Regions from separate parts of the Homo sapiens genome. Here regions 1, 2, 3, 4, 5 and 6 are each linked to region 7. The links come from fine-mapping of genetic effects on gene expression. A gene starts in region 7. Each other region holds a variant in brackets. All regions are shown on one strand. Distances are from middle to middle.

What was found. PIP is the estimated chance that this variant, and not a neighbour inherited with it, causes the effect.
Region 1: its variant is fine-mapped to the expression of TMEM18 in tibial artery (GTEx, PIP above 0.99).
Region 2: its variant is fine-mapped to the expression of TMEM18 in skeletal muscle (GTEx, PIP 0.98).
Region 3: its variant is fine-mapped to the expression of TMEM18 in gastroesophageal junction (GTEx, PIP 0.99).
Region 4: its variant is fine-mapped to the expression of TMEM18 in thyroid (GTEx, PIP above 0.99). The same link has a PIP of 0.9 or more in aorta, esophagus muscle, lung, pancreas, spleen and testis.
Region 5: its variant is fine-mapped to the expression of TMEM18 in prefrontal cortex (GTEx, PIP above 0.99).
Region 6: its variant is fine-mapped to the expression of TMEM18 in prefrontal cortex (GTEx, PIP above 0.99).

The regions. Positions count from the first base shown.
Region 1 is chr2:1,607,013-1,611,353 of GRCh38, reverse strand. The region is part of intron 4 of LALTOP (lung cancer associated lncRNA targeting TOP2A); the gene reads left to right. Among named protein-coding and RNA genes, the nearest start is that of LALTOP, 16 kb to the left of the region's middle. The variant C/A (reference allele first, on the strand shown) is at 1,950.
Region 2 is chr2:446,935-451,275 of GRCh38, reverse strand. No RefSeq gene overlaps it. Among named protein-coding and RNA genes, the nearest start is that of LINC01874, 44 kb to the left of the region's middle. The variant C/G (reference allele first, on the strand shown) is at 2,226.
Region 3 is chr2:795,845-800,185 of GRCh38, reverse strand. The region is part of intron 2 of LINC01115 (long intergenic non-protein coding RNA 1115); the gene reads left to right. Among named protein-coding and RNA genes, the nearest start is that of LINC01115, 70 kb to the left of the region's middle. The variant A/G (reference allele first, on the strand shown) is at 2,212.
Region 4 is chr2:707,503-711,843 of GRCh38, reverse strand. All of the region lies in intron 2 of LOC105373358 (a long non-coding RNA gene), which reads left to right. Among named protein-coding and RNA genes, the nearest start is that of TMEM18, 32 kb to the right of the region's middle. The variant T/C (reference allele first, on the strand shown) is at 1,817.
Region 5 is chr2:714,368-718,708 of GRCh38, reverse strand. All of the region lies in intron 1 of LOC105373358 (a long non-coding RNA gene), which reads left to right. Among named protein-coding and RNA genes, the nearest start is that of TMEM18, 39 kb to the right of the region's middle. The variant A/G (reference allele first, on the strand shown) is at 2,268.
Region 6 is chr2:654,022-658,362 of GRCh38, reverse strand. No RefSeq gene overlaps it. Among named protein-coding and RNA genes, the nearest start is that of TMEM18-DT, 21 kb to the left of the region's middle. The variant T/C (reference allele first, on the strand shown) is at 2,210.
Region 7 is chr2:675,638-679,978 of GRCh38, reverse strand. It overlaps TMEM18 (transmembrane protein 18), which reads left to right and starts at 2,573. Exons shown (of 5, transcript NM_152834.4): 1 at 2,573-2,690. The coding sequence starts at 2,634. It overlaps TMEM18-DT (TMEM18 divergent transcript), which reads right to left and starts at 2,607. Exons shown (of 3, transcript NR_183417.1): 1 at 2,506-2,607. RefSeq lists enhancers at 2,431-2,500, 2,531-2,630, 2,533-3,298 and a silencer at 2,791-3,040.

The sequences.
Region 1 (4,341 bases), 930 kb before region 7:
CTGGCCTCATCCTTCCTCATCCCCAGTAACAGGAGGCAGCTGGGGCATCCTGCTCATTCGGTGGGCTCTGGGCCTCATCCTTCCCCCTCCCCAGTAACAGGAGGCAGCTGGGGACCCTGCTCGTTCGATGGGCTCCTGGCCTCATCCTATCTCCTCTCCAGTAACAGGAGGCAGCTGGGGACCCTTCTCATTCGGTGGGCTCCTGGCCTCATCTTTCTTCCTTCCCAGTAACAGGAGGCAGCTGGGGACCCTGCTCGTTCGATGGGATCCTGGCCTCATGCTTCCTCCTCCCCAGTAACAGGAGGCAGCTGGGGACCCTGCTCGTTCGATGGGCTCCTGGCCTCATCCTACCTCCTCTCCAGTAACAGGAGGCAGCTGGGGCACCCTGCTCATTCGATGGGCTCCTGGCCTCATCCTTCCTCATCCCCAGTAACAGGAGGCAGCTGGGGCATCCTGCTCATTCGGTGGGCTCTGGGCCTCATCCTTCCCCCTCCCCAGTAACAGGAGGCAGCTGGGGACCCTGCTCATTCGGTGGGGTTCATCAGAGAAGAGTTCCATCTCTGTTTCTCCTCTCTGGATGGTAGGAGGCAAATATCATGAATACAGGTCACCTCTGTGGACCCAAGCTGCCCTTCAGGTGGACTGTCCCAGGATCTAGACTGAGGGACGCAGGGTGGAGGAAGGGAATTCTAACACACTCACCAGGCAACCAGGAAGAAGCCATTTTCTTCGCTATCAATTGTCGGTAATAATATTACATTTCGATCTTCATTCGTGTGACTTCTGAGCTTCTGCCTCGATGGGTTTTGAACTCAGGCTTTAACTTCCCCCAGTGTTGAGGAACAGCCACATATCTCAAGGAGCAGAATCTGGGGGCCAGAACGACGCGTGCACAGACCTTTGGCTGAGTGAAGAAGCGTGACTTGAAGCCTCAGGTAGGACCATGCGGGGTTTGGATCTCGGTGGACAACTGCGGTTGTGATGCTCAGTGGCGGCTGCACTGCAGGGGCCAGCGGGTGTCCAGCTGTGGCGGCTCGGCTGTGGCGGGCTGTACTGCAGGGGCCAGCGGGTGTCCAGCTGTGGTGGCTCGGCTGTGACAGGCTGCACTGCAGGGGCCGGCGGGTGTCCAGCTGTGGCGGCTCAGCTGTGACAGGCTGCACTGCAGGGGCCAGTGGGTGTCCAGTTGTGATGGCTCAGCTATGGCGGGCTGCATTATATGGGGCCAGTGGGTGTCCAGTTGTGGTGGCTCAGCTGTGGCAGGCTGCATTATAGGGGCCAGCAGGTGTCCAGTTGTGATGGCCCAGCTGTGGCAGGCTGCATTATATGGGGCCAGTGGGTGTCCAGTTGTGGTGGCCCAGCTGTGGCGGGCTGCACTGGAGGGGCCAGCGGATGTCCTGTGCTTTGGGGACAGGGTGGCTGTAGCAGATGGGCGTGGTCTGGAGCATCAGTAAATAAGGCACTCCGGCGAGCCTCAGCAGGCACAGCTGAGCAACGTTAGGAAAGAACCACTTCCTCCGTCTCTCTGACATTCACAGGTTACAAAAAAAATAGCTACTTTTACTGTGTTTCTTAGCCAGTAAGCATATAATTTAAAATTCAAAGAAAGCAGGTTTCCATCTGTTCCACATTTCGCGTTAAAACTGAAAGCACAATTACATTTAGTGGAGGTATGATTTGAGTGACTGGATTTCTCTCTAGAAACCGGCACATGAAGGTGCAGCTTGAAAGTGTTAGGAGACTGTCAACAACAACAACAAAATCCATCTGACGAAGGCAAAATACATTTAGTTCCAGATGACCTTAGCAAAATACAGAGAATTTGTCACTAACAGACCCGGCCTAGTGAAAGTCTTCATATGGAACTTGTTCAGCATGAGTGAAAAGAGTGCCAGGGCAAACTTGGATATTTAGGAATGAGGAAAGAGAAGTGGAAACAGTAAATATCAGAA[C/A]AAATATAAAAGACTACTTCTTTTTCTCTTAGTTATTTAAAATTTGTGAGCGTGGAAAGGAACATTCATACTGTTTGGCGTGGTTTTCAATATACACAGATGTAAAACACCTGACATCCATGACAGGAAGGTCACTGAGGAGGACTGTGGAGCTGCAGGTTTTCCACACTCTACAGGAAGTGGTGTCCGATTAATTCCAAGCCAACTGTGAAAGATGACATGTGTCTATTGCAATAATTAGAGCAGCTGTTAAAAGAATGATTCAAAGAGATACAGCAAAATGCAATATAAATTTAGATGGGATACTAAAAAGATTTAATCTGAAAGACAGAGGAACAAAAGCAGAACAGACACACAGAAAAAAATGGTAATTTTAAACCAAATTGTATCCACGATGACATTATATTAATTAATAATTACACATTGTATATTAAAAATAATTTAAAAGGAGACTGAGCGAATAAAAACAACCCCAGTATTGTTTTCAAGAGTCATGCTTTAAAATTAAAGATACACATAGGTAGAAGTTCAATAGATGGCAAAAATCATACCATGGAAACATTGAGCACAGAAGACTGGATGGCTATGTTAATACCAGATAAAACAGACTGAATACAAATAATATTACCAGAGACAAAGAAGGACATTTCATAGTAATAAAAGGAAAAATTATCAGGAAGGCATAAGTTACCAGTGTGTAATTATGATTACATGAATTAAAGGGAGAAATAGACTTTTTCACAAAGCAGAAGACTTTAATACTCCTCTCTCGGCAATTGATAAAATAACTAGAAAAAAAATTAAGACCTAGATGATCTTCAAGTACTGCCAATTCCCGTGATCCAATCAGCATCCATGTGACACTGCACCCAACAACTGCACATGTGGTTTTCCAGGGCACATGGGGCATTCGCCCAGGGGATGGGTGTCATCCTGCGGAAGGAGAGGAAGGGCAGTTGTGAGGCTGGAAGCTGTGGCAGGTGCATTTGCAAGTGCTTTCTACGAAGGCAATGGTGAGAAGATGATGAGTGCCCTTTACCTGGACTGGGAATCTTTATTCCGAGTTGAGATGGAACTGGATCTGTGTTCAGAGCAGAGTTGGCCTGAACTTGTCTCTGAGAAGTGGTTCAAGGCAGGGCTGCTTTTGCATCTGTGTTACTAATCATCCCCTCTCCATTATCGGACATAAACTAGGGAAGGATAAGAATCATTCAATGAGTCAAACTCTTGACTCACCTTCCCCAGCTGAAAAGCACCACCGTGCAGAAGTGGTGTCTCCAAGGGTGGAGGCAGGGAGGGAGAATGTTTCCTGTTAAAATTCCCCAGAAGTACTTTTTCGTGCCCATGGGCTTGGGTTTTACCTTCCAAGATTATGACATGCCCGATGGCCGAGAGCCTGCTTGTGCTGGGAAAGAAAGGATCTTGGTGTTCTGATTATTCTTCCTAATGATGGTTCTAAATCAAACCCTAATGGCTGTATTTCTGCCAGACTGAGGGGAAGTATTTTAGATCAGTGCTACTCAACTTTATTGCACTTAGAAATCAATAACATCTAACATCTGCAGATCTCAAAAATGAATGTGGCCTCAACTATCAGCAACACTCAGTCCCTGGACAAACCAGAAGACTGGCCAAGCAGCTCTGGTGCATTCTCACTGCTCCCTTCCTCTCTGCCTGCCCAGACTCCTACACACTGCACCTGCATCTGGATTGGTCCACAGGGAACTTCCGTGGGTTGAGAGAACCCTGCTGTTGTGGGCACAGGATGTGAGGCCACAGGGGTCTTTTCTGTTGCTTTTGGTGGCTGGGGTGACCTCAGAGCCCATCCTCATCTTTCCTGTCCTTCATGGTCAACCCCAAGGGCCTCTCTCCCCAAAATTTCCTTCATTCCCTCTCTGGGAAAGGTCTCTGCCTGCTGTGAGCATTCTCGGACTTGCTCTGCCCTCCTTGGGGTTCCTTCTGATATGCCTTGGTTTCCCTCCCTGCCCTCTACCACCTGGATCTCTGCGAAGAATGCCTGGCCTGAGTCCTCCTCGAGCCGGGGTGCCCAGTTCCGCCAGGCTGTGTCCTGGCAGCTACACTTCAGTCTTCCCCTATTCTCAGTCCAGGTTGCTATGGTGGGGATGTTCGCCCCTGCTATGCCTCCAGGAAGAGCACATCACCAAAGGTGGTTCAAGTTTTTATCCAGGATTTTTTGGGGAAGTCTTAGGAAGCAGAAGACCCCTGTCTACTGGGACAGCCAACACTCAGGTTAACGTGCATGTGGATCTGCTGGGAGCCAACGTGTGGAGAGGGGTCTTGTGCGGAAGGTGAAGGCAATGAGGATGAGAGTAGGAAAGAGAGCCGGAAGGAGCAGAAAGGTGGAGGGGAGAAGCTGGTGCAGATGTGGGGC
Region 2 (4,341 bases), 230 kb after region 7:
ACCAAAATTGTAAAAAAAAAGCAGTTACCTTTGGGCTATGATAATTTTTTCCGTCTTTGGGATGATTTTCTAGTTTTTAAAATAATTTTTAATAAATATGCTAATTGATCATCAATAATCATAACAACATATATTATCAAAAAGGTAAAAAGAAAAATAATGCATGGGGTACTATTTTGGGTGGCTATTACAAAGCAAAAATCATTATGGAGGGTGACGGTTCAAGAGTCACTAGCAAGGAAAATTAGTACAAATTCTCACTTTTCAGACTAATTTCAGAGCTCAATTTAATGAATGAAAAGACTAGATAAAACACTAAATGTAAAGAATACGAACTAGAGTTGAATTTAGTGGCCACCTAGCACAGTGGCCTTTGATTGCACACGAGGCCAACAGCGTTTGCCTGACTTGGGAGATCGATCATGGAGTCCCCAGCCAGCACATGGAGTCCCCAGGTGTCCCAGCTCCACGTCTGGTGCCCGTGCAGTTACACCTGGGTGCTCCGGGCAGCCTGACCACCAGTCTCAGCCCAGATTGCAACCACAGCCATCGCAGACTCCCAGAATCGGAATAGCAAGAAGTTGCAGGCCCCAGGACAGTTCTGTCACTGAGTGGGGGTGTTTGCTGAGAAGCATGCTCAGGCTGTATCTGTGCCAACAGGAGAGCTCCAGGTGTGCAGTGTCTATGAAATCTGCAGTTTTCTGGAACGACATGAACCAAATGTATTTTAAAAGAAAGTCCCGCCTTTGAAATTATTGAAAACATATGGTACTTAAAGTTAAGTGCATTCAGCAGTAGAAAGAAATGTGACAAATATTTTCACAATAAAAGCAATTGAAAATGTTTTATAAGTTTTTAATCTATAGTTAAAGTGTTAAGGTAGTAATAGTCTGATTTGTAGTAATATATTATTTTCAGGCCTCCATCACTCTTTACGAAATGTATGCCAAGAACAAAATAAAATTATGTTTTGAACTACCAATACAAATAAAAATAATTCTATGTAGAAAGGAAACTCTAAAGGGGGCAGTTTTTCTTAACCGACTGTTTCACAACTGGACACCCTAGATTCTATGTTGTCGATGGTGACCGCCTTGGAGGGGCCACCGCTGAAGTGGAGCCTCAGAGGCAAAGCCACCTGCTCTGTGTCATCCTCCAGCACCCAGATTCAACAGCAATCCTCCCCACTCTTCTAGTGGGAAGCAGGCAGAGAATAGAGACCTGGAATGTCTGTCTTCATTAGCAGTGAAGACCTGCCCTCCAATCATAAGATTTGGAAGACTTGAAGTTACCTAGGAGCACAGTCACTTTAGCAGAGGCTTTGGACCACCAATGGGAATGCTAGCACTGCTCCAAGTTTGCTTTTCCACCTAGAGCTGATTACACACACCTCAGCCATCCACACATTCATGCACTGAACAAATACTTACCAAATGCCAAATTTATGCCAAGCATTGCTGATATGCAAGTAAAGAAAGCAAATTTTTTTCCCTACACAAATGGAGAAGGCCAACAGCCCATAATGAATAAGGCAGTGGCAGTGCAGCCTCCATGGGCTGCAAGGTGTCGGGTGTCATCAGCCGGAAGCCGCCTGGCCTTCCCTCTCCCGCAGACTGCTGCCAATGACAAACAGAAATACTGTAAATGTGGAGATTCACTCATGGGGAAGTGTTCAAGAGTAATTTTAAGGCTATCCTTTCAGTTCTATAGAAACTGTACATCTGATCAAAACAAAAATGTTGGCAGTACCAGGAGAACCATCAGTGGGCATGTTTCCTTGCCAAGGACTGGCTCAGACCCAAAGCCAGGGCAGTCTGGCCCTCAGGGTCTTGCAATTTGCTCTTGCACAAGCTAGAGGGACCTCTGCTGATGACGGTGTCCCCTCCCATGATAAGAATCATGACCATTCAGACGAACAAGTCTCATTATTTAAGCACAGAGGGCTAGTGTTGCTTTTTTTTTTTTAATTATACTTTTAAGTTTTAGGGTACATGTGCACAACCTGCAGGTTTTACCTTCAGCAAAGGAAATGGACACCATTTGGCCTATGGGCTATGAACCAGACACCATTTGGCCTATAGGCTATGAACCGAGACACCCAGCTGTAGGCTGTGAAATGATTGAGGGTAACAACCACTGATCCCTGTGTTGCTAGTACTGGGCATGATCATTATATATAGAAATATCACAATAAATGTTTTATATGAATAAATTAATATGCAAAT[C/G]CCAAATCACATGTCCAGTTACACCAGATCAAAATTCAGTGTGTTAACATTTATTCCCAAATGGGGTATTTGGCCATGAAAATATATTTCTTTGAAAAATAATTGCAAGCTTTGGCTTTCAACACGGACCCATTATATAAATGGAGAAAAACGAGGGTATATAAGTTGCATCAACACTGAAGCAACTGACAATGGTCCATGCAACAGCACCCAGGAAATATAGTGGAAATTGATCATGTAACGCTATGCTAAAAATCCATATCCCAGAGCTGCATTCTGGGGCCAGCACTTCATTTTAAAAGTGAGATAAACGAGAAAAATGTTCTCTTATCAGCCTAAAATCATATTATCTTAATGTCATTTCCATTTCCACTCCGAGACATAGCAACTATCTTCTGCACATTAATAACATAATAACATACCAAATGCAAATGAGGTCTTCGTTCAATGTCCAACAGAGACAATAACACATTAAAGCCACCCTGTGGGTAGTAATTAAAAGAATGAGAATCTGATTCATCGGGGTGACGGCATGAGTTAATTACCCCACGCTCTTTAGCATAACTCAAGTTGAATATCAGGGAGGGGCAATCCCTGGATCTGGGCTCTTAATACCCACTGGTATTGGTGAAGGAGGTTAACGTGTGATCTGCTGGGCAGGGAAGGAGCTGGAAGTTGAGAACCACAATGAGACCCACAGCAGAATTTTATCACTCTTTGGCAGATGAGGCTCAGAAAAACTAAATTACAGACCACAGGGTCACGACTATAAAGAGCAAGCATTGTTTGTCTTTCTGTAAAAGGGTTTTTCAATCAAAATTATGGTGTAATTTGGCACTGAATCTCTGATAAATGAAAACCATCTGAAACGAAAGCTTCTTAGACTTTTTTACCCAGCGTTTCATGAGCAGCCTCCTCCTGGGGCCTCCCGTCATCATCTTCGTGCCTGTGAAGCAGATGGCATGCCCTCTCTTTCAACTTGCCGGCCATTTTCCATTTGCAAGTGACAGGCAGGACTTAGGCAATTTTTACGCATAGTGGATATTTGACAATGGACTTGTAAAGGCCCACTTGACGCTCTTGCTGCTGGACGCAGAGTGAACCCTGAGTTTACATGGACATTTGTCATTGTTCTTAGAGGATACTTAGGACACCCAACACCTGCCACAAGGTCCAGGTCCATAGTAAGGGCAAGCTCAGATGAGTGGCCCAGTCATCCCACTGCTCCTAACAGCACTGCCCTCCCCTGCCTGTTAAGGCAGAGCCCGGGTGTGGCTGTGTCTGCACTGGTGGTGGGTGAGGTGCCAGGCTTTGTGTCTCCTGCAAATGGACAGGCTGTGAGACCTGACACAGTGGCTTCGGGACACCAGTGGCATCTCCCAAGGTTGGCAAGCTGGCCCTGAGTCCACTCCTACTTGGTTGCAGGAATCAAGGAAGGGCCCTCCAAGATAGAGTCAGCCCAGAACCGGAAATGCTTCCTAAAGAGCCGCAGCATCACGAAGGGAACCAAGTGGCCACTCGAGGACAGCAATCTAGGAGAACTGAAGGGAAGAAAGAGAAACACGAAACAGCACGAAATTGGAGGTGAAAGACAACAAATCTGTCCCAGGCCAGTGGTCTGGCTTCGCCACAGTGACACGGTTAGGGCCTCTGTTCAGTTCAGCCACCAGCTGTGCCTGGGGAAAGGCTTAGCTGTCAGCTCACAAATGAACAGCATGTTATCAGTTACTTGTAATTAATGGTGAACTTTTAACCTAAACAATCAGTAAAAGCCAGTTAACTGCTGTGCGTGTGGTTCCTGGCCACCACCTTGCTAGTGCTCCCCATGTCTGAGTGGGGCAGGTGCCAGCCCTGAAGGACGTTCACAGGGTCTCTGACCTGCCGCTCCTAGGAGGTCACAAGGGACCAAGGGAGGGGCTCCGACCTGAACGGAGCAACGGCTGCTGGTTCCTCTTCAACAATCACATTTATTTTTCACCAGTTTTGCATTTCCTAAGTACATATACATTTTTTAACAGATTTCAGCAAATGACCCAGGATTGTTACACTGATTTTAAAAAACTGTTACTTTTAACACTTTTGTTTTTTTATGATTCTAGTGTAATGTTTTCAACTT
Region 3 (4,341 bases), 120 kb before region 7:
AACCACTGCTCTCTTCAAAGCTGTCAGACAGGGACATTTAAGTCTGCAGAGGTTACTGCTGTCTTTTTGTTTGTCTGTGCCCTGCCCCCAGAGGTGGAGCCTACAGAGGCAGGCAGGCCTCCTTGAGCTGTGGTGGGCTCCACCCAGTTTGAGCTTCCGGGCTGCTTTGTTTACCTAAGCAAGCCTGGGCAATGGCGGGCGCCCCTCCCCCAGCCTCGCTGCCGCCTTGCAGTTTGATCTCAGACTGCTGTGCTAGCAATCAGTGAGACTCCGTGGGCGTAGGACCCTCCGAGCCAGGTGCGGGATATAATCTCGTTGTGCGCCTTTTTTTAAGCCCGTCGGAAAAGCGCAATATTCGGGTGGGAGTGACCCGATTTTCCAGGTGCAGTCTGTCACCTCTTTCTTTGACTAGGAAAGGGAACTCCCTGACCCCTTGCGCTTCCCGAGTGAGGCAATGCCTCGCCCTGCTTTGGCTCGCGCACGGTGCGCGCACCCACTGACCTGCGCCCACTGTCTGGCACTCCCTAGTGAGATGAACCCGGTACCTCAGATGGAAATGCAGAAATCACCCGTCTTCTGCGTGGCTCACGCTGGGAGCTGCAGACTGGAGCTGTTCCTATTCGGCCATCTTGGCTCCTCCCCCCTATTTTATTTTATTTATTTATTTTTTAATTTTTACCTAAAACTTAGAAACAATCCTATTCAACTAAATAACTTATAAAAATTAGTAAATAGCAAAATAAATTCCTTTAGTTTTCAAAAGGTTTCTCTTTAATTATCAGTGCTTTATGCAGTTGAATAACACAAATGTTAGCATGGCGGGGACAAGAAAAATAAACCCTGGCCCGGAATACTTCAGAGTTGGATTTCGAACTTAGAGAAAAAGCATGGTATTAACAAGCCCTGTCATCTGCAGCAAAGAATATGGTTGTGGTTTTAACAAAAGATTAGTTAAATCATTTACTCACAGTTTATGCCATAATAAACTGTTTTCGAATCAAATATTTAAATGTAAAATCTAAAACTATATAAGCACCAAAAAACATGAAGATATTTTCTTATGGTTTCAGAATGAGAAATGTTTCCAAGTATTACTATAAGTAGAACAATTAAAATTTATAATTTGATCAATATTTTAAAAGTGTCATGGTTCCAAGGAAATGGACAAATCATGAAATTCGTTGCTATCATAAAGCACATTTTTTAAATGATTAAATGGATTCTACAATTCAGTAATAAAAATACCAATAATCCGACTGAAAAAATGGCCAAAAGATGAGACAATAAACAGAGTACAAATGCTCTAAAGGATGCTTAATTTAATTAAAAATAAGAAAACTATTGAAATCATGAATTATGATTTTTGATTTCTGCCTCTAGGATTAGGAATAATTGGATCATTAAGAATGTGGAAAGATGTGTGCTCTCTTCCACATTGCTGGTAGAATTGCAAACCAGCTTAGCATTTATAAAAAGCATTTGAAAATTAGACACTAAAGATAAAACGCTCCTACTCTTTTGACCTGATAATTTGATATCTTAAATTTTATTAGATATATGTTATCACATATGTATAAAGTATATAGATTGATGTATTAAAAAATAATTAAATACCTTATAAGTAATTCAATAAGGCATTGCTTAAATAAACAAGGCCGTACCTACTCAATGGAAAATAACATTTCTTTTCAAAAGAATGATAAGCTCTATACTAGTAAGGCATAATCTTCAAGATATATGGTTAAGTGATAAAACCTGATTTTAGATTGTGTGCATCATGTGTTTTTGTGTGTATAAGAATTAAAGTTGGAAAACATTAGCAGAATATAAATAATACGTTATAAGCAACATATAATAGACAGTGCACAATGTAGGTCACGATGATACAGGAGGGGCAGGAAAGGGCTGGGTAGAGAAGGGCAGGCTCCCAGTGAGGGCTCCACCCTCGGGCCTGTGTCCATGGACCTAAGTGAGAGCAGGCACTTCTGTTTTCCCACCTGAATGTTGCATTTCCAAGACCACTCTGGCCTGCCACACCCCCCATCCTGTGCCCATATAAACCCGAGACCTTAGCAGGCAGACACACAAACTGCTGAATGTCAAGAGAAGTGGCAGAGAGCAGCAGAGAGCGGTGGAGAGAGGCAGAGAGCAACACTGTGGCCCGGCAGAGAAGGAGGGAAGAGGCACCTGAACACCAAGAGGAGTTCACTG[A/G]CAACAGCCAAACTCCAGGAGAAGATGATCTCCCCCGCTCCTCCACCTTCCAGCTCCCCGTCCATCTGCTGAGAGCCACCTTCACCACTCAACAGAACCCTGCACTCATCCTTCGATCCTGCTTGTGATTCGATTCTTCCAGGACGCTAGACAAGAGCTCGGGATACAGAAGGCTGTCCCATTGGCTCTCTGCCCTTGTGATAAGGCAGAAGGTCTGCTGAGCTGGTTAACACTCAAGCCATGTACAGGCAGCCAAGCTGAGAGAGCTCTGTGACACGGGGGTTGCACGCACTCACCTCTAGAAACTACTGCAGGGCCAAGAGCCCAAAGTCCTTGCCCCAGCTTCTGCCCCTGCCCCTCTGCATGCTCCTGCTAGGGGTTTGAGCTGCAAGGTGGCCAAACAGGTGAGCCACACTCCTGTAGTATGTCCTGCGAGGGGAATTCAGAGAATTCTCCAGTTTCAACAATATGCTGTATCATACAGTGTGTAACATACAACAGGTGTAATGCAGAACATGTAGCATGCACTGTGCACTGTGTGCGTGGGACATCTTCCTGTCTATAAACGGGACTATATATATACACACATATATGTATACATGTAGCATGCACTGTGCACTGTGTGTGTGCAGGGGCACCTTCCTGTCTATGAACAGGGGAATATATATATAAACACACATATATACATGTAGTATGCACTGTGCACTGTGTGTGTGCAGGGGCACCTCCCTGTCTATAAACAGGGGACTACACACACACACACACACACACACACACACACATATACATGGATGCTATTTGCTGTTATTTGTTGCACATGGATGGACTGTTTCTGGGATCATCCAGAAGACACAGAAAAAGCAATTAACTTCAGACAGGGAGTTCTGTTGCTGGGTGAACAAGTAGACAAGGTGGGATTTTACTTACTTATTTTTTATTTTAAATTTTGAACCAATTAAACACACTCAAATACATTCAAACATTAAAACAGTCGGATTTTGAGAATTACTTCATACTGGGCTCTGTAGGAACAGTCAAGGCCTCCCCCTCCCTCTAGGTCATAACTGGTCTGGGCTCAACACCAACTCATCAGGTGAGAAGGAGCCAGAAACAGCCGGATGGGTGCAGGCAGCTGCAGGGGGCCTGGCTCACTCACCCAGGTTCACAGCCTCAGGGGCTGTGTGGGGCTGTCACCCCAGCAGCCGGGTTCCAGAGCCCCACTCTAGATGTACCCCACCCAACTCAAAGGCAAGCACACCTTCCTGGGGGTGCAGCTGGCACTGTCAGCCGTATGGAGCCTCAAGCTACTTCCAAGGGGAGCCCATGACCCTTGATTCCTTAAAAAAAAAAAAAGGAATGATTTTCCTTATTCCAGGCACGTCTTTCCTAATAGTGGAGCAGAGAGAGTGCCGCTGCGCTGAATCCCGGACGGAGTGGCGTCCATGTTCACGTTCCACGCAACGTAATATTGACTCACCAGACTGAAGTCCCCACTACAGCAGCCGGCCCCGGCAGAGCTTTCAAGGAAGGTTGTAGGGGCTGGTGTTTCCCACAGCTGCTGGGCTGCTCGCTTCCCGGGATCCCTGGGTAGTGGTAGGGATGCGTGGCTGTGCAAAGTCTTCCAGGCGGGAAGAGAGCAGCCAGGATCCCGCAGCGCAGTGCAGGATGCGGCCTCAGGACTGCCTGGAGTCAGGCCTTGTGCGGGAGCAGGGAGGGTGCCCAAGGCCTGTTCCCAGGGGCCTGAGGGAGTGGAGGGCCCCCACTCCTGGGTGTCAAATCAAGTGTGGCCTAAAGCTGCCTCCTTACATATTTTAAGTTCGGCCTAGAGGTTTCTCTGTACGTGGTGAGCTATAACCTAAGCGGAGTTGTACACAGACTGTAGCCTATACTTGCGCCAATCACCGAGATTTGGCCACTCAGACGTAGCCGGTTGTTTGAACCCTGTTAAAATAAGGCAAATGCGGGCTGTAATCAGTCCAGCTGTCTCTGTCCCTCACGTCCGTTTCTGTCTGTTACTTTCCCTTCCCTGTCCATAAATCTTCCTCCCCGACGCGGCTGCGCTGGAGTCTCTGAGCCTCCTCCGGCTGGGAAGGCTGCCCGATCATTGCTCGGTTAAACTCTGTTCAACTT
Region 4 (4,341 bases), 32 kb before region 7:
GCTGGAAACAGTTGTATGCCAACAAATTAGGTGTCCTGGGGAAATGGAAAGAGTTCTGGGGACAGAAATTACCAAGCCCAACTCAAGAAGAAATACAAATCTGAACAGACCTATAAGGAGTAAAGAAATCGATTCAGTCTTCAAAAATTCCTCAATAAACAAAAGGCCAGGACCAGATGGTTTTATTGGCTAGTTCTAGAAAACATTGAAATAATTAATACCAATCCTCAAACAAAGTAATCTCCTTCCAAAATACACGCAAGGAGAGAACACTTCCTAACCCATCTTGTGAAGCCATCATTACCCCAACACCAAAGCCAGACAAGACACAACAGGAAAAGAAAACTGCCAACCAGTGTCTCTTATGAATGTAAACACTCGGAAACTCTACAACAAAGGCAGCAACCCAAGTTCAACAACATGTTAAAGGGATTTTACACCCTGCACAAGTGCGACAGATGCCAGAAATGCAAGTGTGGTTCAGCCTCAGAAAATCGATGAATGTAACACATTACATTAAGAAAAGAAGGAAAAAATTATCTTGATGCAGAAAAAACATTTGACAAAATTCAATATTATAAAAACACTCAGCTAACCACGGGGAAGGAGGTCTCTCTTCCTTGGCCCAAAAATGTCCTTTTGGGGCTGTGAAAGTATAGATACAACCACCTGGGACACAAGCTGATAGTTGCTGAAGCTGGAGTTAAACACACAGGAGTTCACTATGCTTCTGTCTACTCCCATGTTCTTGAAATTTTCTGTCATAAATGCTTACATCATCACTTGTAAAAGGTACATTACTTTGACTACTTTCATCAGAATAACAGGTCTTTATATTCTCAGTATACCTAAATCATCACAGGACAAATTTGCCTTCCATTCTATGTCATGTCATTTAGCAAAATGTACATTAAGTGCCAGTCTTTGGGCTAATGCATAAGCAATGTGTGAGAACACTGTCTTAGTGAATTTGAGCTTCTCTAAGAAAATTCCATAAACGTGGTGGCCTCTAATAACAGAAACCTATTCTCCCAGTTCTGGAGGCTGGAGGTTCGAGATCGAGATGGTGGTGGATCTGCTGTCAGGTGAGGGCTGCTTTCCAGTTCCCGGACGGTGCCTTTTTCCTGTGTCCTCACACAGCAGAAGGGACAGGGGAGCTCTCTGGGTCCCTTTCATAAGGGCACTAATCTTATCATGATGATTCATGAGGCTCCACCAGCAAAACCTCATCACCTCCTAAAGCTCCCACCTCCTAATACCATCACTTTGGCCATTAGGTTTCCAACTGTGGATTTGGGGGACACGTTCAGTCTATGGCAGGTACACATGGAGATGATTCTTGAATCTGAGCTTCAATCTATTAGGGTAGAAAAAAAGCAATGAAAATATGATATAAAATATACTTCATACACACACACAAACTTTCATACCCAGTAAGACAGCTAATATTTAAAAATGTACAGACAAAACATATAATGACAAGCGTTTGTTGGGTTGTGGAGGAATCAGAACAATTAAGCATTCATGGTAGAAATATAATACTGTGCAGTCACCAAGAGAACTGTGTAAAGAGGAATATAATATAGTCCAGTCACTGTAGAGAGTTGTATGGAGAGGAATATAACATAGTTGGTCACTGCTGGGAACTGTATGGAGGGGAATATAATATAGTGTGTTCACTGTAGGGAACTCTGTGGAGAGGAATATAATATAGTGTGGTCACTATAGGAAACTGTATGGAGAGGAATATAATATAGTTGGTCACTGTAGAGAACTGTATGGAGAGGAGTATAATATAGTTGGTCACTGTAGGGAA[T/C]TGTATGGAGAGGAATATAATATAGTTAGTCACTGTGGAGAACTGTATGGAGAGAAATATAATATAGTTGGTCACTGTAAGGAACTGTATAGGGAGGAATATAATATAGTTGGTCACTGTGGAGAACTGTATGGAGAGGAATATAATATAATGTGGTCACTGTAGGAAACTGTATGGAGAGGAATATAATATAGTTGGTCACGGTAGGAAACTGTATGGAGAGGAATATAATATAGTTGGTCACTGTAGAGAACTGTGTGAAGACTCAAAAAACTAAACAGAATTACCATATGATCAGCAATTCCACTTTTGGGTATATTCCAACAAATAGCAATGGAAACCAAAGGCTGGGATTCAGATAGGAGGGATCCGTGCACCACTGCTTCTGGCAGCACCACGCAGAGTAGTGGAAATGTGGCATCAACCCAGGAGCCATCGCTGGATGAACGGGTAAACACGGTGTGGGGCGCACAGATGGTGAAATGTTATCCAGCCTTAAAAAGCACGGAAATGCTGGCACATGCTTCCACATGGATTCAACCCAAAAACATCGAAAACATTATGCCAAGTCACAAAAAGACAAACGCTGCAGGATTTCACTTCTGCGAGGAATCTACAGCAGTGAAGTTTCTAGAGACTGAGGGTAAAGCGAGGGCTTCCGGGCTGGGGGGTGGGCAGGGGGCGCTGTCGTTTAACTCGTTTAATGGGTGCGGAGTTTCCGGGGAAGAAGAAGGTGGAAGGTTCTGGAGATGGAAGAGGTGTCCGCGGTACCACAGCGTGAATGTGGTTATTGTCACTGAACGGTGCACTTCAAAATTGTTAAAATGGCAAGTGTTGTGTGTATTTTACACGACAGTGTGTATAAAAATACAGCGTGGAATCTGCTGATGGTAAAGGAATGCCCAGGGCTGCACGGGAAGGAGGAACATGAAGACGCCTCAGAACAAACAGTGCCACTGAGATAACACAGCAGGAGGGCCAGCGCCGTCTGTTAGAAAGACCGAGTCAGGAAGGGAGGAAAGAGGGATTTCCATCCAGAGCCACGACACACAGCCCCGTATCTCTCCAGCGGGGCTCAGCCACGGGCGGGGCGAGGCCAGAGGTGCTGTCTCCATTCCAGGCTTTGCTCAGGGGACATGGCCCTGTCTTGCTCTGTGGGTTCCCTGCACCGTCTCCCCTCAAATCCCCCAGCCCGTGGCTCATCACCTCAACTTGGCTTTCGGCACCGTGCCAGGCGCTGCTTATGCTGTGGTCGTTCCCACCCGTGATTTGCAGTTAGCAAACGCTGACTGGCCTCTCCCCATCACCCTGGAGGAGGCTTGGAGATTCCTGCCTGCCCGGGAAACCAGGAGCAGCTCTCAGGCAGGACTCGGAGCTCAGTCCGGGTTTTTCCTTTGCGGCCTGGTTTGCGTGTGAGACGCGTGTGTGCACCCACTCAGGGCTCACAGTGTGCACCCACCCACTCAGGGCTAATGCAGGCTCTGCGTGGGGGACCCAGACGAGGAAGCTCTTCCCCGGAGGACTCCCATTGTTCCTACAAGATAACAGAAGCCCCTAAGCTGCAAAAGTGAGATTCAAGGCCAGGTCAGAATGAGTTTAAATGATGTCCTTTCCACCACTAGTTTTCAAGAACTGAGCATTCTGTGATCCATGAATGAACAGCTTGTAATACAGGCACGTAAATATTTGGGCCTGTTGAAGGGACCCGCACCTTAAGCGTATGTATCTATGCATACACATATCTTTAACGGGATGATTAATGCTCTAGTTATCAGGCATGAAATAGCCTTAGATTTTGTGTTTTCATCAGCATTTTAGAAACTTTATGTTGTATTTATCATTAGAAATCATGATGCCAAACTATCCTTATGAAATGAACTATCCTTTTGAAATCTAATTACTATTTGTCAAATTGCTTCAGCAACACTGAAGATGTAATTATTAGAATCACATATTGGAAAAAATATGTGATTGCAAAGAGATAGGACAAAGGGTTGCTGAGGTAGCTGAAGGCAGAAAGGTCACTGCTGTTTTCTCAAGTCTTGCCCATAGACTGAAAATGTTGGAAAAGAACACATTTCATTCTGGCTAGTATCAGCCGACATCCTGATGTCAGGAGAAATACGCTTTTAAGTTTGATGCTATTTAGCTTTTCAGCAGACAAACTCCTTCAAAAGCATTCGAAGGTTCAGCACACGTACTGAATTTTAGATACCTCTCAAAACTGTCTGAAAAATAAATCTGTTTTTCTATGATAAGATTCAGCTGGTGATTTGTTAAACAATGTTTCAGGGGCTGAATTTCTGCCACATTAAACATGATGTTTCCCTTGTTATCTAAAATGTCTTTAAGAAATTCCACTATCAGTTTATAAATTTCTCAGCTAGGCCATTGAATGAATCAGAGAAATTAAATGATCCTTCACTCTGTTGAGAAAAGAAAACCTTTGGGTACGATTGAGTTCAGAAAGTATCTGTCTCCTCAAATTTTCTTCTAAATATGTTTTGAAAAAGTAAAAATGTAGC
Region 5 (4,341 bases), 39 kb before region 7:
ACTGATTACACTGCAAAACTATGAATCTCACTGCTATAATGTTGCTTGACAGAAGCCAGAAGCAAGATAATACATATGATAACATAAGATATGTATTCATATGAAATTCAAAATAGAAGTGAAATGAATCTTCAGAACAGGTTGTGGTGATGTTTGCTCCCAGGGCTGCTGGCTGGGAGGGAGCAGGGATCAGCCTTTGTGGTAGATGTGTTTAGTATCTATACCCAGGTAGTGTGCACACAGTTGTGTATATGGGGAAAATCCACTGAGCTTCATGTTTGAAATTTGTGGTCATTGCTTTATGTAAATGATACTTCAATATATAGAAAACTAAAATTAAAGATAAGGCATCCTTAATGTAATGCCATAGAATGGTGACACATAGAACAACTAGGGCATGATAACTATGTTTCATTAATTTTTCATATTTCTCTCATCATAATACATAATGATTTCATGGCATTTCATTTTATGCATATGCCATAACATTTTTGATAATTGCCTGTTCTTGAATATTTAGTTTATTTCTAATATTTCATTTCCAATAGTTTCTCTAAATAAACACTTGATCAATTGTCGCCTCTGTTACAAAATCTCACCGTACATGGTTTTTTTTTTTTTTTTTTTTGAGGCAAGGTCTCACTCTGTCAGCTAGGCTGGAGTGCAGTGGTGTGATCACAACTCACTGTAGCCTCGACCTCCTGGGTTCAAGCGATCCTCCCGCCTCAGCCTCCTGAGAAGCTGGGATGTCAGGAGCACGCCGCCATGCCTGGCTATTTTTTTCTTATTTTTGTAGAAACAGAGTCTCATTATGTTGCTTAGGTTGGCATGCTTATTCTTTTGGTAAAATGCCTGGTTGTTAAATTGCTGAGCACATGGTAGGAACCATGCTAAAGTTGTTCTAATGCATTCAAAATGTCTTCTATCAAAATTGTGTACTAATTTATGTTCCAGCATGACAGCCCCTGAAGCATTCTGATTATGGAGACTCTGTTCCTCTCCCCACCACACAAGCTCTTTTCATCTTCCACTTTTCAGTTTCCAGTATCACATGTGGGTCACTTACTTGGCCCACCCACATAGGTATTAATAATGTATTTATGGCCCCAACTTTTCCTAAAGGGCTCATATTTAATGTCCAACCACGTGGATGACGTTCACCAGCTGACACCGGAGGGGGTTGATGTTGACGCCTCTTATTTCTCTTCCTCCTCCTCATCCTCTTCCTTGTCTTGCCCCTTCGTGTTGCTATGGCAAAATAATATTCAAGGCAGTGTGACCTTGTGAAGTAACCAATATAATAAATCGGGCTGAAAAATCCAATCTAATTTATAGATGACCAATCAATGCACACATACTTTTCAAGCAAACATTTATAACTCTCTTCAATGAGAAAAGTTTTTTTGGCAAAAAAACCTTTGGCAAAAATTTAATAATGTTCATATTCACTTCATTTTCCTGAAGAAATAAAGGTCATAAGCATTCCCACAATATATCCCTGAGCCTACTGCTGGTAATAAATCAGTATTCTGGTAAGTCTCCAAACTTCTAAACCATAGAATAGACCAAGATTTAGGATTGAAAATAAGTTTTTCCATTGCATTTTGAAAAAAATAATTCACACGTGCAAGGATGGCATAGAAGGCCTTTGTGACAGAGCCACTGTTTAATCCCCAGCCTCATCTCCATGACCAGGGCCTGCTGCCCCTCCACCACCCAACACACCCACCCCAGCAGCCACTTCAGTGTCCTGGTGTCTTCTTGGGATGGTCTGCCCCTTCCACCCTCTATCCCACACCTGTCGCCTCTTCATTTGTAGAAGGAGTTATTTCAGGCCCCACCTAGAATAACCTTCTTCAGGAACCCCTTCCCACCCCAAGGCCTCCCCTCCTCCTCCCCTCATCCCCAGGGCTCACTGACCTCTGTGCAGCTGTCCCATCCCTGTCATCGTGGCTGTACTGTGGGGGCCCAGCCACGAAGTCAGCCTCACTGGCCCCACGGACCCTGCCGCTTCAGAGACCCTCACACGGAGGAGATTTGTCTCTAAAAAGACGTGGAGAGCTCCCTCCTGAAACTGCTTTTGAGCTGCCTCTAAGGAGCAATGTGACCTTGATCAAAGGGCTGCCTTGGCCTCTAGAAAGGAGGAGTGTGGAACTGAGGAGGCCTAAATCCCCTTCCCCGTGTCATGGTTTCCAAGGAGGACGAACAAGCTCCCCCCACACCCTTAACCCTGCTGCGTGTCCCCCACGCTGTACCTCGGTGTCACC[A/G]CGTTTGAAAGACAGCGTAGATCTGCCTGCAATCACACAGGCTTCTGCTGACGCTGGCCTAAAAGTGATCACAGCGGCAGTCCCGACCCGATCCGCCGGCCCCAGCTTTCACAGCTTCAGCACTTGACGGCTTCACGAGGGATCCCATTAAGCTGTTGCTGCATGATAGATACCCAATATATTTTTACCAAATGAGTCAATTTGAATAATAATCTAGACTTGAGGTTAAATGAAAGCACAGAAAGGGTCAAGAATTATTAAAAGAACAGTTATCAAATGTTATAGAAATTCACCATTCAAGGAACGGGGGAGGTGGGAGAAAAGGTGCAGAATCCTTGTAAGTCTTTTTAGGACTGAAAGTCGAGAAAGCTAAAGTGAGGTGGTCATGCATCCATCTAGTGGCCAGGCTCAGTAACAGGAAAATTCCCCTCAGTCCCTACAGCAAGGTGATTCTCAGGGAAATCATTGGGTTCCTGAATCCCACGAATAATCAGTGATGGCTAGGTTATTTTTCTAATTATTGATTATTACAATAGTAACAAAAATTAGTTAATAGAGAATAAATCTAAGTAAGTTGAAAAGATATAAACAAATGATTAAAGGAAAATTATGCATTCCTTAATCGTGTTTTGAAATAAAAGCTAAAATAAAATACACCATGATCATTGTTCCCTATGGATTAATAGTTTATAATATATTTTACTCGGCTCACAAATGTGCCAAGCAAGACCGAGGAAGGCCAGACACTTTGCCTGAAGCCACACAGGAGCTTAAGGAACTCACGCAGGGTCAAGTAAAAAAGCAATGGAGCTGGGATCCAAAGCCAGAATTAGGCAACTTACACCACCAACTCGGGGGTTTGATGTAATAAGAGACGAGGTTAAGTTGAGTTTATTTATTATGCTTCACATGCTTCCAGCTGCATCTGAAAGGTGAGGGTGCATGGGATGGAAGAGGATCTAGCGGGTGGACGTGATCACAGCAGCTGCATCTGGAAGGCGAGGGTGCATGGGATGGAAGCAGATCTGGTGGGTGGAGGTGAGGACTACTGCAGCTGCATCTGGAAGGTGAGGGTGCATGAGATGGAAGATCTGGTGAGTGGACATGAGCATCCTGGGTATACTGAGTAAACTCAGCCAAGGATGCACTGCAGGAGGTGAGGAAGCTGACTGTGGTTTGGACGTGGTTTGCCATCTCCACCAAGTTCCATGTGAAACGTGATCCTCAATGTGTTAGTGTTTGGAGGTGGGGCCTGGTGGGAGGTGTTTACATCCTGGCAGGAGGTGTTTATGTCCTGGGACTGAATCCTTCTTTGTGAGGTATTGAGTGTGGCTTCACTCTCAGAGACTGGACTGGCTCCCACTGGAACTGTTGTTACAAGGTGCAGATTCTCCTTCTGCTTGGTCCTCTCCACATCTGTTCACTTCTCCTCTGACCTTCTCCATCATGTTATGACCCAGCTCAGAAACCCTCACAGGGAGCCAAGGCCAGGCCCTTGAACTTCTCAACCTGCAGAACAGTGAGCTAAATAAACATTTTTTCTTATAAATTACCCAGTCTCAGGTAATTCTCTTATAGTCACACAACAGGGAGATGGAACACGCCTGACGGGCCTGCCTCTGTGCCAGAGCAAGGTTTGGGCAGCTCGGGCCACCTGCACAGCCATGCAACCAGGGTCCCTTGAGCATGCAGGCAGGCCCTGAGGATGAAGTGTTGACAGAGACCAGCGACTTCTGTCTTTGGCCTTGAACAATTTCTCACCCTGGGTCCTCATTTCTTCTCTACAAATTCCCCTGGTACTGTGTTCACTTACTGCCCTGACCATGCTCCTCCAACCATTAAACCGCTACCCAGCTGGTTTCCCCTAAGCAATCTGGGGTTTATTCTCTGCTTTGCAGAATCCTTGATGTCCAGCGATGCTTCCGGTTCTCCTTCTTCTGGGCACCTGTTAAAACTGCACTCTTCTGCCCCCTTGAGGTTGTGCCGGGGCATTTGACTTGCCTTAGCCAGTGAAAAGTGAACTCTGCCATCGCTGGGAAGAAACCAGCAAGAGCCGAGTTCTTTGTCTCATCAG
Region 6 (4,341 bases), 22 kb after region 7:
TAAGTTAAAGTTCGGTTTGGTTGTTTTTGTTACAACAACTGCACTAAGCAATAATGATAACTAGCAATTCAAAGCTTATGTCTCAATTGAAATGTAGATGATAATCCACACACCATTTCAGAAAAAATAATATGTTTCCATCATAAAACATGGAGGTTTAGTAAGAATAGTGCTTTAAGTTAATAATAATTTCTTAGACATTTACAGAGATCTATACACTAATGATTAATTTTATCTAACTAGTTCCACTCTGTTTGTTGAGAACACCTCTATTTCTAAAAATATTCCTGTAGTTGGTTTCTGGAAAAGCCCGTGGAAGGCGCCTACATCCCCAAGGCAGCTCCTAGTGCTGTTGATGTGGCGCCCTGGCACGTGGTCACCCAGTTGCAATCTCTCCTGTGGGCCATCGGATCTAAGTTATGCAAGCTGTAGGTGTTTACCCAGGAAGGTTTTCAGCAAGGCCTGTAGAGACCCAGCGGCCAGCAGGGAGGTGACCCAGATCCTCCCTGCAGCACCAGCCATGTGGTCCATAGAGGAGGCTGTTGAGAAATACAGAGAAAGGAAGATGAAAAATGTGGGTTTATTAAAATTCTGTTGATAAAGTGAGAAGATTCAGTACATATTGAATGTAATTACAATAGGATAGAACAAGAAGAATTAGAGAGAGACTATATTTGCAAAAAAATGAGTAAACAATTTGATTACAAAAGCATGCTGTCTATCAAGCAGAATAAATACAAAACAAAGATACATCTGGACATACTGGAGTAAAATTGAGAATAACCAGTCTAAACGTAAAATATGTAAGACAGAGAGAAAACTTTGGCACTGTCTAATAAGAATGACAATTCGGTAGACTGCAGACCTCCAAAAGCAATACTAAAAGTTAAGAGAAGTTTGGAATAATCCCTTAAAATGCTGATAGAAAATAATTGTCAACCTGGATGTGTGTGCCCTGTAAAATTATATTTCATGAATAAGAACAAATTTAAAACATTTCAGCTGAAGAAAATTGGGAGGGTTTACTACACACAGACTCCCTGAAGAAACTACTAAGAGATGTCCTCCTTTTACCAGGTGATAGTAAAAGAAGTAAGAAGTTATGGAAGAAAATGAATTGGTTATTTGTTTAAATCTAAAACACATTACAGAAAATTATGATGATTGTGACATTAATGATATTATAATAATAACATGCATTTGAGAGAGAGAGAGAAAGATAAAGTACTGGACAGCAGTAACCGATAATTCAGGAGAACACAATTGAACATAATCTAATTGTTCAAGCTCTTTATTCTTTACTTTTTAGGAGAAGACTACAGATATTGCTATGGGCTGGATCGTGTGCTCTCAGAATTTATACGTCCATTCCTAGCCACCAGTGGGACTGTATTTGGTGGTGGCTCCAATAAGGAGATCATCAGGGTAGAAGGAGGTCACCGGGCGGGGCATGGTCCCATCAGGCTGGTGTTCTGATAAGAGGAGACACCACTGAGCTCTCGACTTAGAAGAACACAAGGAGAAACCCTCACAGGAAACAAATTGGGTGCCTCCTTCCTGCCCTGATCTTCAGTGCCCAGCCTCCACAACTGTGAGAAAATAAATTTTTGGTGTTTAAGCCCCTCAGTTTGTGGTGTTTGTTAGAGCAGTCTGAGTTAAGACAGATACTAATTAACTTCAGGCCTTGTTAAGTAACTATTAAAGAAATATGAATGTAGTATATAACCATCAAATCTGTAGAGACAAGAAAACAGAAAAAGAAAACAATCCAAAATAAGATAAGAAAGAAAAAAACTTAAAAAATAAATACATATATATATAAAATAATGTTTTAAATAAAATTTAAAAATAAAAACATACACACAAAACCAAGTCCATTATTTAAGTTTATTGTGGCAAACTTGATTCTCAAACTAGACAAGAGAAGCACAAGAAAGAACACATAGAAACTTCTATAAATGCAGATGGAAAACTTGCCTATGTTAAGAAAATGAACCCAGCTGTGTATTGAAGAGAAAACACAACATAACTCAGTTTACAATTGTGAAGAGTTCAATGGCTTCAGAAAAAAACATTTGATAAAATTCAAAACTCATGAACTGAAAAACAAAATGAACTAATCGAGCAAAAACTATTGACAAAGTAGGAAAAAAGGAAAACTTTTGTAACTTAATAAAGACTATCTAAACAGTTAAGTAATCGCAGCACT[T/C]CATCCCTAATGTGGAAAATCTAGAACATCTCCTGTTACAGACACTTAAGGCCCTCAGGTGCCTCTCACTTCCCAGCACTAAGGACACATGCATTGGGTTTTCTTATGGCTGCACCCCAGTCTTGGTACAAAATCTCTTTTACTTACTAGTACCTTGTGATGAACAACCTCAAGCCTCAGCTAATGAAAACAGCAGCAGTCACAGTGTTGCTCACAGATCTGTAACTTGGGCAGAGATCCCAGGAGACAGCTTGCCTTTGCTTCATACACTTCAGCTTGGGGCAGCAGGAAGTTTCACTTTCCACATGGACTTGCCCTTGTGACTAGCTGGTTGGTGTTGATCAGCAGCAAGGGCTGTGGGTTGGGGCCATGGCAGGGCAGGCCATACAGGCCTCCTCATGGCCTCTTGGGCTGCCTCACAACAAGGTGGCTGGTTCCAAGAACAAAAGTCTCAAGACAACAAGGTGCATCACTTTTTCATCCCATGTCATCCCACTCACAGGGGAAGTCACAAAGACTGCCTGGGACCCAGGACAGGGACACGGCACCCCATATCCTGGTAGGTGTGTCAAAGTCAGAGTCCCACTGTGAAGGAGCAAGTGTGATGAGGGCTTGTCTTGTGCCGTCTTTGGAAAATGCAATCAGCCACTGCTGATTTTTTCTGTGTGATTAATTATGTGGTTTTCTCTTGGGGGAGGAGTGTCCAGGTATATTTTAATGGTTTGACAATGTTCTACTTGCCATAGACAACACAGTGTTCATTTTTTCTTAGGCTTTATAACTTTGATGTGTAATACATATGTTCCTCTGTGAGACTCAAATACTTCACTTAGAAAATCTCATCATCTGACAACCTCCTTTGCCTGTGCAGAGCTGTGGTGAATTTTCCATCGCTCTTAGGTCCTCAGAATAAAACCCAATGCCTGCACCACGTGTATGACAACCTTTGTGACGTGGCCTCCACGGAGAGCCTCATTTTTAGGATGGTAACTTACTCAGAGTGCTGCACCCGCACTGATCCTGTAGAACAAGTGTCTTTCCTCGTAGTGGCCCCAGCAGGCTTCCGCCTCTGCTCAGAGCGTGCCTCTGGCTGAGGCTTATGTTGATCTGCTTCTGCACGGCCATCACCTCCTCAGAGGGGACTTCCTGGGCCCCCATCTAAAGTGTCACCCACTCATCTCCACCCAGAAGCCCCACTTTATATTATATTACAGAAGTTTTATCTAAACTCATTCTGCTCCCTGATGAACTCGCTTGCACTTCCTTAAATGCACACTGGAAGGTGTGCATCCCGAGGGCAGAGCCTGTCCTCCCTGTGCCCCAGTGCTGGGAGCCATGTTTACATCAGAAACCTCCTGGGAAGTGGTTTTGAGTGAACCATTTCATCACAACAACCCTGTAAGGTAAATGATATTATTTCCATATTTTAGATGAAAAAAGAGATTTCCAGAAAAATGAAAAATTCTGCAGTCCACAGTGATGTTGGTATGGGATCTGGAGCTGTCGTGGCCCAAAGCCAGAGTCCTTTTCTCCTTCCTGACTCAGTGCTGTCAATCTCTGATGTCAGAAGAGCGAGCACCGAAGACAGAAAACAGCGTCCTACACTCAGCGGCAAGGAGAGTTTGAGGAACACACAAGGAGATCTGGAAGCCCGTGGTGTTGCCTCCTCACCAGGAGGCCATGGTGGTCTTGGGAGGTGCCCATGCTCTACTCTGTGTGCCAGCTGAGCAGGAAGTGGACAGAGAAGCAAGGTTGGGTCACATTCTCTGTGTAGAGTGTTTCTCCTTCTCATCATATGTTTATATACTTGGAGGGGATGGGTGGAGATTTCTTGCACGCATGGATTGTGTGGTGGTGAAGGTGGGGCAGCTGTCACCCGAATAGTGAGCATCATATCCCACAGGCAATTCCCCAGCCCTCAGCTACTCCCCACCTCCCACCTTCTCCAGTGTCTGTGCATCCGCTCTGCACATCCACATGTGTTCCCACCTTCTCCGGTGTCTGTGTGTCCGCTCTGCACGTACACATGTGTAAAGAACTTGACACTGCGACCCGGTCAGGAGACAGCGGCAGGTGTGTGAGGCACGAAGCCAGGAGGAGCCGGGGCTGCAGCACAGCAGGGAAATAATAAA
Region 7 (4,341 bases):
TCACAAACTTATTTTACCCATTAATAAAGCTCTTGAAAACCAATTGTATGTGGATTAAATAGCTATTTTAGAAATAAACAAAATTGGGCCAGGCGTGGTGGCTCACGCCTGTAATCCCAGCACTTTGGGAGGCCAAGGCAGGCGGATCATCTGATGTCAGGAGTTCGAGACCAGCCTGGCCAACATGGTGAAACCCCGTGTCTACTAAAAATACAAAATTAGCCTGGCATGGTGGCACACGCCGGTGATCCCAGCTACTCGGAAGGCTGAGGCAGGGAGAATCGCTTGAACCCAGGAGGCAGAGGTTGCAGTGAGCCGAGACCCTGCCACTGCACTCCAGCCTAGGCAACAAGAGCAAAACGCAAAAAAAAAAAAAAAAAAAAAAAAAAAAGGAAAGGGAAGAGAAGAGAAGGGTGGCGAGGGAAGGGGAAGGGAGGGGAGGGGCTTCATCCAGTCTTTTCTGGAAGCACAAAATTCCAGGTAAATGGAATAGAGTCCATGTCAGCATTCACATACCAACAGAGAGAGCAGGCCATGTTCTACTGGCCACATTAAAATAGCAAAGAGAAAGAGATTAATTTTATTGATATATTTTATTTGGTCCAGTATGTCCAAAATATAATTTCAACATGTAAGCAAAATAATACAATTGTTGATAATGTATTTTACATTTTGGTACAAAGTCTTTGAAAGATGGTGTATGTTTGAAATTAAAGCACATCTCAGACTGGCGACATTGCACAAGCTTCACGTCTAAATGTCCGGCAGCCTAGCGTTGTTCAGAACGGCAGGGCGGGAGGAATGTGGAAGATGAATGTCCTGGGACTGAAAGTGAAGCTGCTGAGGGCCAGAGTTTTAACAATTTTGGAAACTTGGGTGCCAGGGCGCACAATATATGAAAGATCTGGGAGGGCGGCTGAGGGGAAGATGAAGAGAAAAAATCCCAGTGACCGTAGATAGGCTGTGGTTAATATTAATAGCAAAAAGAGTTTGACCCCAAATTACAGAAGTTACAAGAAAACAGACACCACAAAAGAAAGGCAGGCACCAGACAGGACTGACGATGAAACTAACCCATGGAAATTAATAAGAGTGATGTTTCACATAGTAACGAAATATCATCAGGGAGATACACAGTAACAGGCTGAACTGAAGAGGACAGATCTATTCCCTGTAACTGAAAGGTCCTGTTGAAAATAGCTGAACAAACACAGGGGAGTGAGAATGGACACAGATGAAAACCATCACACCAGCTGGGTGCGGTGGCTCATGCCTGTAATCCCAGCACTTTGGGAGGCCCAGGCGGGTAAATCACTTGAGGTCAGGAGTTCAAAACTAGCCTGGCCAACATGGTGAAACCCCGTCTCTACTAAAAATACAAAAAAAATTAGCCAGGTGAGGTGGCGAACACCTGTAATCCCAGCTACTCGGGAGGCTGAGGCAGGAGAATAGCTTGAACCCAGGAGGCGGAGGTTGCAGTGAGCCGAGGTCCCACCATTGTGCTCCAGCCTGGGCGACAGAGCGAGACATCGTCTTAAAAAAAAAAAAAAAAAACCAGGAAAGCCAAGCCCGAGATTTCCCAAACTCAGCAACAACAGTCGTGATGTTTTGAGAGGAAGGTTGAGAAACACAAAAGAGAGGAAGATGCACTATCTACCTAACGGGATGTTCCTGGAGTTGAATACAGGAAGAATAGAGAAAAATATCAATGAAAGAAATGTTTTCCCATAAGAAGAAACCATGACCTTCTACACTGAAATGAGAGAATGCATGTTAAGTAGCATAAGCAGAAATGACCACACTGTGGAAAGATTTTAAGAAAGATCTGGGAGGGGTTAAAGCTATTAAAAAAAAAAAAAAGTCCACCACTAGAACTATTTTTAGAAACATTAAACTAGTTCAAGAGCTAACATATGCAATTAAAGTATATACACTTAATAATTCATGATGTTAAAATAACAGAATGTTTAATTTGAAAATGTCAAAGTTGGGGTATAGATGTTAAAATAAAGGGAAAAAATTCGCTGGAAGAAAATTAACTTTATATTTTTGTATCTGTCGTTGAACAACGAAGTGAAGCGTAAGAACATCTGGTAAATCTCCAAAGTGAAGACAGATAACCCTAAGCTGACCCAGACTAAGAGTGCACTGCCCTTAGGGTCGCGAGAGCAGACACCTTCCCAAGTCCTGCAGGGTCCGAGGAGTGGGCAATGTCCCCGGCTCCTGCAGGGTCTCGGGGCGGACACCGTCCTCATTGATGCTCTGACCCTTCTAGGGAGTCCCAGGTGGGACAGGGCTGGCGTGGCGGTACAGCGCCCTGAGCCTTTGAAACAAACCTCCTAAATTCCACCCGCCTCCGCCTGCTCCTCTGTTAACGAACTAAAGACGCCCTCGGCCTCCTGGCGGAGCGAGCACAAGTCCCACAGCAGCGTAGTAAGTTTTCCGTATTACAGCGACCACCAGGAAATATCGCGATATCTGGACCTAGCAATGCCATGAAATTACCGCGAGAGGAAGCAAGCGCAAGTTTCGTGAGAAGGGCAGATCTCACGAGAGAGGATTTGGCGCCCTCCTCTGTGGATTCTGGCCAGGCCGGGTTCGGCGGTTGCTGTGAGAGCGGGCTTCCCAACACCATGCCGTCCGCCTTCTCTGTCAGCTCTTTCCCCGTCAGCATCCCAGCCGTGCTCACGGTAACTCGCGGCCCGCGTAACCACCAGTTCGGGGGAGGACGGCGGAGAGGCGTAGGGTAGGCCCCACAGAGCACCCGGCCTGTGGCCAAGAAGGCCCCGGCCGTGGGCGGGGCCTTGTGGCGGAGCGCGCGCGCTGGGCAGGGTCCTGAGACCTGTGGGAGTGGCTCGGGGCCGGCGTCGGGGGCGCGCGCTGTGGGCGGGGTCCTGGGCCCTGTGGGAGGGGGCCGGGGCCGGGCGTCGGGGCGCGAGCGCTAGGCGGGGTCCTGGGCCGTTGGGCGGGGAGGGGCGGGGCCGGGCGGGGCCTTGTGGAGGAGCGTGCGCAGTGAGCTGGCTCCGGCGCTCTGTGGCCCGGGCTTGGGCTGGGCTGGCGTCCTGCACCGTGCGGGCGTGGCTGAGTTGTGTGGGCGGAGCGCGAGGGGTAGGGCTTTGTTCGTGTGGGAGGTGCACGCCGGCCAGTCCAGCGTCTTGCGGGCGGGGCTTGGGCCATGTGGGCGGATTCTGGCAGTGCGGCGGGGCGTGCGTGGTGGAGCCTGATCGTGTGGGGTGGCACGGAGGAACGCTGCCCAGTGTGGGCGGGGCGTGCGCCGTGCCGGGTTCGTCTGACAGATCCCAGGGGAGCCCACGCCCCACGTGGCCGCCAAGGGGTGACATGGGCACTCGATGGGGTCTGGGCAGAAAGCCGTGCTCCCCTCACCTCCGTGCCTCTGGTCTTCTGGTGGGTGCATTGATGGGAGTAGATGCGCTTGTGTCCTTATGTCATGGCGCGGCTCTGGAGAAGCCGCTGCGGTCCCCAGCAGAGAGTAGTGACACAGGAGTTCTGGAGGGCTGTGCCGGGCTGCAGCTTGGAGGGCAGGGCGGGGCTGCAGCTTGGAGGGCAGGGCGGGGCTGCAGCTTGGAGGGCAGGGCTTGTCTTCTGCAGGAGGGCGCTCAAGGAGGGGATGGGGAGGGTTGAGGACTGCTGGGATTGGCATCTGAGCATCAGGTGGGGACTGAGCAGCAGTGGATCTGAGCCTGGCTACTTCAGGTCCCTGAGCCAGACACTGTCCCCAGGTACAGCAGGGTCCCGGGGAGTCCAGGAGGCGGCGGAGTGCGGCACTGTCTGGAGAGTTCAGTGTATTGCAGAGAGGTTGGAGAAAATCAAGTCTTGCACGTGGCGATGGCTCAAGATTCCCTGAGGTCTTCAGTGCTGACTAAGGAGTCTGAAATGATGATTCATGTTTTACCTTTGGGGCTGAGCCAAGTGCATCTCTTTGAGCAATCGTCTTAATTTCCTTGTCGTCACCAATTATCATAACCAATTATCATCGTAAAGGATGGTAATTCCTTTAATTATACCCACCTTAAAAACATGATTCTGTTCCACAAACGAAAGGAGCACATCAGAGATGCCTTCAGTTCTGTGTGCTTGAACTTTGAATTCCATGAATTATAGTTGCACTGAGGGGAGAATCCTGTTTCCATCCTCCTGGTTCCTTCTCCCTTTCCTGTCCCCATGTTTCTCTGAGGCCTGGCAATGCTCTCTGGATACTTGGTGAGTAGCCCAGGAGGACTCAGGAGTGAGAGGCCCCTGCCTCCTGCGCTGGGAGAAGGCTGTGGGTGGGCCGTGAACCCGGCCTTGAGTGGCAGGACAGTGAGTGTCTGCTGGTGTGTT